3 separate regions of the Homo sapiens genome follow, and regions 1 and 3 are each linked to region 2. Evidence: fine-mapped QTL for protein levels in blood plasma. A gene starts in region 2. Each other region holds a variant in brackets. All regions are shown on one strand. Distances are between the middles of the regions.

Region 1 (2,849 bases), 55 kb after region 2:
AAGAAGGCATTCAAAGGTGGGTCAGAAAATAATGAAATTACAGAGATTTATTGCAAAGAGAAAAGCACACACTCAAGAAAGAGGAGTGCAAACAAACACAAGGAGAGTCACATGAGAAAATACGTTTTACTGATTCTTACTCCTGCTGGCCCTGGCTTTCTCCTTCCTTGTCTTCCTTTTTTTCTCCCCTTGTGATCCTTTCTCTCTTCCATCCCCAATATATATGTCTTAGATAGGGAACTTAGATTTATTGAGCATCTACTATGTGCCAGGTACTGGGCTTTGGGCCTCATGGACTCCATCTCACTTAGTTCTTCCAGCAGCTTTTGGAGGGATGTTCATTATTATTCCCACTTTACAGAAGAGGAAATGGAGGTTCAGGGAGGTTAAATGATCCAGGTCACACAGTCAAATGGATTGGCGCTGGGAACTACATCTAGATCTGTTTGACTCTAAAACACTATTCTCTCCTTTATTTTTTGAGGGTCCATGAAGCACTATCAAGGAGCTACAGAATGTCAATTACGTTCCTCTTTGGAGTCTTTGTTGCCCAGGCTAGAATGAAGTGATGCAATCTCGGCTCACTGCAACCTCCCACCTTCCAGGTTCAAGCAATTCTCCTGCTTCAGTCTCCCAAGCAGCTGGGACTGCAGGTGCCTGCCACCACACGTGGCTAATTTTTGTATTTTTAATAGAGATGGGGTTTCACCATGTTGGCCCCGCTGGTCTCAAAATCCTGACCTCAAGTGATCCACCCGCCTCAGCCTCCCAAAGTGCTGGGATTACAGGAGAGAGTCACCACACCCGGCCCTCAATTGCATCCTTGAGTACAAATTCACATAACACACATGGAATTCCTGTTTGCTTATGAATCTTCCTATCAGGTGCCACTGATCTGCTAGTAGAAATCCTCCCAAGGAAAAGCTTGAAGAATGCAAGTGTTTTGCTGTCTGTCTAGGTTTTTTGTTAGCCTAAGGAGACACACAAGACTCCAGCTGCTCAGCCAGCCCCTCCGGGAGCCTCAGCCTGTGAGCAAAGTGATGGTGAGCAGGAGGCAGAGACCACAGGCTTCTGTTTACAGAATCTCTCAGACAATGGACAAAAGAGTAGCAACTTTCATAACAACTTGACATTGATAGAGTTTCCAATATAGCTGCACATTTTCTACTGTTATTGCTCCAATCTTCTTCATGAAAAGTAAAAGGGGGCCGGG[C/T]GCGGCGGCTCACACCTGTAATCCCAGCACTTTGGGAGGCCGAGGCAGGCGGATCACCTGGGGTCAGGAGTTCAAGACCAGACTGACCAACATGGAGAAACCCCATCTCTACCAAAAATACAAAATTAGCTGGGTGTGGTGATATATGCCTGTAATCCCAGCTACTCAGGAGGCTGAGGCAGGAGAATCACTTGAACCGGGGAGGCAGAGTTTGCCGTGAGCCAAGATCGCGCCATTGCACTCCAGCCTGGGCAACAAGAGTGAAACTCTGTCTCAAAAGAAGAAGAAGAAAAAAAAAAAGTAAAAGAGGGCAGGGCATGGTGGCTCACACCTGTAATTTTGGGAGGCAGAGGCAGGAAGATCACCCAAGCCCAGGAGTTCGAGACCAGCCTGGGCAACATAGTGAGACCTCATCTCTACAAAATAATACAAAAATAAGATGGATGTGGTGGTGCACACCTGTAGTCCCAGATACTTGGGAGGCTGAGATGGGAGATCATCTGAGCCCTCAGTGGTTGAGACTATAGTGAGCTGTGATCACACCACTACATCCCAGCCTGGGTGACAGAATGAGACCCTGTCTCAAAAATAAGTAAATAAATAAAAAGTAAAAGAAGGTTTTGGTCCTCACTTGGATAATCAGCAGTAATAAAAACATCTGGAATGAATCCACTCAGAGCCTTTCCAATAACCAGTCTCTCTCTCTCTCTCTCTCTCTCTCTCTCTCTCTCTGTCTCTCTCTTTAGCACAGGTTAAATTTCTGATTGTTCCTTGAGGCTTTTTTTGGTGGAAATCTATGTTAAAGCATATTTTATGTGGCAGAGGAGGCCAAAAGTGATGGCTGCATGCTTACTTATTATTTTTCCATGAAATAGCATTTTAGGGATCCAAATACAACCTATTTGATCCACAGACATGTACTGATCACTTCCAAGGCTGCGTAAACATTTAAAGACGTTCTTTGATGTGGTTAGACAAAGATGCCCTAAGCTATGGGTGCCAGTTAACTAGTTAATGCCAAATGTCTGGAGGAGCCAATTTGTTGGTCATTTTTAAAAAAGATCTGTGATGAGCAGTAAGAGGCTATCTGAAGCATTTTGTCTTTCATTTTTTAAAAACCTGGATCAAGATACCATGTGCAATATGAATATTTTTCTTTCAAAGGCAAGTATTATACAGAAGTTATCTCTATGGGGGCTGGGCATGGTGGTTCACGCCTGTAATCCCAGCACTTTAGGAGGCTGAGGCAGGTGGATCACCTGAGGTCAGGAGTTCGAGACCAGCCTGACCAACATGGTGAAACCCTGTCTCTACTAAAAATACAAAAATTAGCTGGGCATGGTGGTGGGCACCTGTAATCCCTGCTACTTGGGAGGCTGAGGCAAGAGGATTGCTTGAACCCAAGAGGCAGAGGTTGCAGTGAGCCAAGATAGTGCCATTGCACTCCAGCCTGGATGACAAGAGCGAAACTCCATCTCAAAAAAAAAAAAAAAAAAATAGAAGTTATCTCTGTGGGATTGGAGAAGTGGGAGCACTAGGGAGAGAAACATTTCTCTAATATTTGTGTTTGTATTTTATTTTATTTTTAACATGCCCTTGAGTTTTCTTTTAAAAGTTTAAAACTAGTTCAAATGCA
Region 2 (2,500 bases):
GAGGCTTAAATTGGCTACGTATCTTACAGAGGAGCTTTACACATGGCAATATTAAAGAATCAGTATCAATCCAGTCCCTCCAGCATCCACTCTAAAGAGAATTTAGTTATCAGCTGGGCGCAGTTGCTCACACCTGTAATCCCAGCACTTTGGGAGGCTGAGGCGGGTGGATCACGAGGTCAGGAGATAGAGACCAACCTGGCTAACACGGTGAAACCCCGTCTCTACTAAAAATACAAAAAATTAGCCGGGTGTGGTGGCGGGCGCCTGTGGTCCCAGCTACTCGGGAAGCTGAAGCAGGAGAATGGAGTGAACCCAGGAGGCGGAGCTTGCAGTGAGCCGAGATCGCACCACTGCACTTCAGCCTGGCGACAGAGCGAGACTCTGTCTCAAAAAAAAAAAAAAAGAATTTAATTATTCTTCTTCTTATTATTATTATTGTTGACTGAGTTTTGCTCTTGTTGCCCAGACTGGAGTGCAATGGGGGGACCTCGGCTCACTGCAACCTCTGCCTCCCAGGTTCAAGCAATTCTCCTGCCTCAGCCTCCCGAGTGGCTGGGATTACAGGCGCCTGCCATCACGCCCGGCTAATTTTTGTGTTTTTAGTAAAGACAGGGTTTCACTATGTTGCCCAGGCTGGGCTCGAATTCCTGACCTCAACTGATTCGCCCACCTCGGCCATGATGCCCAGCTAATTTTTGTATTTTTCATAAAGACGGGGTTTCACCATGTTGGCCAGACTGGTCTCGAACTCCTGACCTCAGGTGATCCACCTGCCTTGGCCTCCCAAAGTGCTGAGATTACAGATGTGAGCAAGCACGCCCGGCCTACTTATCATTATTGATCCCTGACATATACGAAGGGGTTGGATATATTAATTATTTTTTCAAAAGCAAAAAGTACTTACTCCGTCCTGCAATAGCAACATGGCAGAGAAAACTCGAGAACAAGATGAGCACTGGAGAAATCATTGTGGATGAGTCACACTGGCACTACCAAAGTGGTTTTCGTCTGCTAAAAAGACAGAGCCAAATATGAAAGCGCTTAAACATTAACCATTTTCTGGTGTACTTTTATCTTTGTAAATAGAAGATAAAGTATCATGATTTGAATGGAACTCTGAGACCCACATTCTTTAATCATTTACTTTCCACTTATGTGGCTCTGTTATGAAATCTTTGGGAGATGGTTTCTGTCTTCATAACGTTTTTGTTAATGGCACAAAACAGTTCATTATTGCTTTTGACAGAAACTTGTTGTTTCCGGGGTTGCCTGGACTTCTCATTCTCCATCTTTTGTTTTGTGTATGTTGTAGATGGAACACCAAAAGATCGAAGCTCCTGTTTCACTCACAGCCTTGGCATATAAACTTTGGACAAACACCTACTCTCTGTTCTCAGTCTCCACCTCTCTAAAATGATGTTCCAGTTTTCAGATGTATAATTACAAAGAATGTCTTCCAGGAGGCACTTACAACTTTAATTCCCTACAAACTGAGCTCAACATCCTCTCTTGCAAGCTCCTATAGCTCCAGTTAGGACCTTAGAGCTATCCTTGAATTCTCTATCTTCTCTTACGTCAGATCAATACAAAGTCCTCCTCATCCATTCTTAATATGTCTTGGATCTGTCTAGACAGGTTTCTAGATCTGTTTCAGGAATTTGAAAATTGATTTGAAATTAACAACTTGGGACTCGAAGAAGAAAAAAAAACTTGAGTAGGATAAGATAATGGGCCAGTGCTGATGTTGTTGCTTGAGAGGGTTCGGAAGGGGGGTTGTCTTTGATTCCCTAGTTCTCTTCTACATCATTTGCTCTAAAAAAAAAAAAAAGGATATATAAATGGACAATAGCCAGGCCATATGTGAAAACAGAACTCTGACCCACACATCTGTAGCAACAGGTCTAGAAAGCCAAACCTACAACCTCTATAGCAGTTGGCCCAACTTAAGGCCAACCAGAGAAATCCAAACATATTTCTCTAACCAATCACATGGACACCTCACTTCTAGTTAGTTTCCTTCCATCCTCCCCATACCAACAATCCGTTGGAGCACACCTGAAGCCTTTCCTTTTTTCTATTATAAAGCTTTCCCACTCCTCTGTCTGACTTTGACTTTGAGTCTCTGCCAAACACAACTGTTAATGGCTGCCTCCCTTCCTATAGCAAGCTCTGAATAAATAACCTCCGCTTGCTCTCATTTGGGTGATCTTGGTTTATATCCAGAGGTCTAAAATTCCCTGAGACACATCAGCTTGAGAAATCTCCATCTGTCAGGCAGATGATTCTTAAATTACGATCCTAATGAACATTGTGTTCCATGATAAGAAGAGTGTGCTGCCACTAATGTGAAATAACAGTGGTCCTTCCCTATTTGTCCTTCTAAGGGGAAGGAGATTCTTGTTCTCTGGATAATTCCCAGGTTCCGCTTTATTGTGGAGAATCTCCTTGATGAATGAAGAAGAAAGAAAACTAATGAAGTCAGGAGGAGCCAAGTCGT
Region 3 (2,849 bases), 18 kb after region 2:
TGACAGAGCAGGACTCCATCTCAAAAAAAAAAAAAAAAAGTATAAGAACAAAACTACAAATTTTCAGATGTTACGCAACTGAGAGAACGCAGAGAGAGTTGATCTCAAAAACCTTACCACTTCAGCCGGAAACCACAGGATACATTTCACAAGATCACTGCAAATCTCAGCATGCAGGTGAAGTGGAGGAGGAAGCAGCATGAGCTTGAAGAAGTTCCAGATGTTTCCATCAACCACAAGTTTAGCCTGACCTGCTAGTGACACAGCTGAAGTGTAATTGAATTAGGCTGTGTTCAGACACAGAAAACTCCAGTCTTGAACACAATTACTGCTTTGCACTGTGTTGGTCAGACCAAAGTTTGGCAGTTCTTCAGGAGCATACTGAAAAGCCAGACCTCTCTGAAGGACAATGAAAACTCTGAAAGTCATGTAACAGGATAATAAGTCAAAGTATCATGAAAGCCTACCCTGGAGAAGACTAAGAAAGTCTCCAAATATTTCAAAAACCATTATGTGGAAGGAGTTTTAAACTTGTTTTCAGTGGATTCTGAGCACAGACTTTGGGTTAATGGGTACCAGTTTTAGAGAAGAAAGAAAGATTCAATGTGTGAAAAAATGGATTTTTTTCTTTTTCTTTTTTTTTTCGAGACAGGGTCTCACTTTGTCCTCCAGGCTGGAGTACAGTGGCACAATCTCAGTTCACTGCAGCCTCGACTTCTGGGGTTCAAACGATCCTCCTGCCTCAGCCCCCACCCCAAGTAGTTGGGACTATAGGTGCTTGCCACCACGCCTGGCTAATTTTTGTATTTTTTTGTAAAGACGGATTTCACCATGTTGCCCAGGCTGATCTTGAACTTCTGAGCTCAAGTAATCTGCCTGTCTCGGCCTTCCAAAGTGCTGGGATTACAGGTGTGAGCCACGGCGCCTGCCCTAATGTTTAATAATTAAAGACTTTCAGCAATGAAGTGGGTTTCTTCAAAAAGTGATGTGCATCCTGTCAATCATAACATCAAGTTCTAGGCCCTGGAAGTTCAACTGAGTGATCATCCTAAAATAACATATTGGGTCACTCTTCTGCTTAGATGCTCCATGGCTTCACATTAAAATTAGAACAAAGGCCAGGCATGGTGGCCCACGCCTGTAATCCCAACACTTTGGGAGGCCAAGGCAGGCAGATCACGAAGTCAGGAGATCGAGACCATCCTGGCTAACATGGTGAAACCCCGTCTCTACTAAAAAAAATACAAAAAATTAGCTGTGCGTGGTGGTAAGCGCCTGTAGTCCCAGCTGCTCAGGAGGCTGAGGCAAGAGAATGGTGTGAACCTGGGAGGCGGAGCTTGCAGTGAGCCGAGATCACGCCATTGCACCCCAGCCTGGG[C/T]GACAGAGTGAGACTCTGTCTCCAAAAAAAAAAAAAAAAAAAAATTAGAACAAAATGCAAACTCCCCATCCTGGTCTACTAGGCCCTGTGTGATCTGGCTCTGCTGACCTGTATCAGCAGCTTTCTCCCTTTTCCTACTTTTCATCCAAGTATTCATTTACTCCAGGACTGTTCTTCAAGGTCAGCCATGTGCTGGCACAGTTGTGAACACAGCAGGCAAAATCTCTACCCTGAAGTTGCTGACATCATAGTGGGAGAAGAAAGACAAAAATAAATAAATAATAAACAAATAGATGAAGGGTTAAGGTAAGTGCTATGTAGAAAAATGAGCAGGGCAGGCCAGGCGCGATGGCTCACACCTGTCATCCTAGCACTTTAGGAGGCTGAGGCTGAGGCTGATGGACCACTTGAGCTCAGGAGTTCAAGACTAGCCTGGGCAACATGGCAAAACCCCGTCTCTATAAAAAATACAAAAATTAGCTGGGTGTGGTGGCAGGTCACGGTTCTCCTGTCCAGCTCACTGCCCCTGGACCACTCCATGTAGAAGTCCTCAATAAACCCTATGTCTCGCTCACTGGCTCTGGGTCTCTTTTTCAGCCTCTCAGACATGGTGCCATCCTTATTATGGCCAATAAATGTCCCACACAACACATGCCTCTCAAGGGCTGACTCTGTCTTTACTGGCTGCATCCCCAGCACGTAGACCAGTGCCTGACACAGTCAGTGCTCCAGAAATAGCTATTAACTGACTGATAAGGGAAGCAATGAGGGAAGTAATGTCGTTGCTCAGAGCCATTTCCCTGGCAACACTTGCCAACTGGAAGTTCACTTCCGCTAATAAAATTCTCTTTGGAAAATACAGATACAGCCTGGGCAACATGGCAAACCTCCATCTCCACGAAAAAACTGCAAAAGAAAAAAATTAGCCAGGCATGATGGCATGCACCTGTGGTCCCAACTAACCAGGAGGCTGAGGTGAGAGAATGGCATGATCCCAGTTCAAGGATGCAGTGAGCTGTGATAGTGCCACCATACTCCAGCCTGGGTGACAGAGCAAGACCCTACCTTAAAAAAAAAAAAGGCCAGGTGTAGTGGCTCATGCCTGTAATCCCAGCACTTTGGGAGGCTGAGGCAGGTGGATCACAAGATCAAGAGTCCAAGACCAGCCTGGCCAAGATGGTAAAACCCCATCTCTACTAAAAATACAAAAATTAGCTGGGTGTGGTGGTGGACGCCGGTAATCCCAGCTACTCGGGAGGCTGAGGGAGGCTGAGGCAGGAGAATCAGCTTGAAACCGGGAGGCAGAGGTTGCAGTGAGCAGAGATCATGCCACTGCACTCCAGCCTGGGCAAAAGAGTAAGACTCCGTCTCAAAAAAAAAAAAAGAAAGAAAGAAAAAAAGAAAATACAAATATAAATATGTCCTGGAAAAGTTAAGCCTCATTCATATTGTAATATGAATGAACTAATTT

Which allele goes with the higher level. Positions count from the first base shown, and alleles are read on the strand shown. Strength reflects both the effect of a copy and how common the allele is.
For the plasma level of the protein whose gene starts at base 1,007 in region 2, allele C in region 1 goes with a lower level than allele T (weak association).
In carriers of allele T in region 3, the plasma level of the protein whose gene starts at base 1,007 in region 2 tends to be lower than with C alone (strong association).

Evidence for each region. A credible set is the group of variants that fine-mapping cannot tell apart. PIP is the posterior inclusion probability: the model's chance that the variant is causal. Protein levels are from antibody-based Olink assays in UK Biobank. Linkage for the fine-mapping came from a reference panel and not from the study's own genotypes, which makes the PIPs less certain.
Region 1: its variant is the best candidate, but not a certain one, in a credible set for the plasma level of the APOH protein (UK Biobank, PIP 0.83).
Region 3: its variant is the best candidate, but not a certain one, in a credible set for the plasma level of the APOH protein (UK Biobank, PIP 0.89).

The regions. Positions count from the first base shown.
Region 1 is chr17:66,283,172-66,286,020 of GRCh38, forward strand. No RefSeq gene overlaps it. Among named protein-coding and RNA genes, the nearest start is that of PRKCA, 18 kb to the right of the region's middle. The variant C/T (reference allele first, on the strand shown) is at 1,214.
Region 2 is chr17:66,228,409-66,230,908 of GRCh38, forward strand. It overlaps APOH (apolipoprotein H), which reads right to left and starts at 1,007. Exons shown (of 8, transcript NM_000042.3): 1 at 908-1,007. The coding sequence starts at 971.
Region 3 is chr17:66,246,384-66,249,232 of GRCh38, forward strand. No RefSeq gene overlaps it. Among named protein-coding and RNA genes, the nearest start is that of APOH, 18 kb to the left of the region's middle. The variant C/T (reference allele first, on the strand shown) is at 1,379.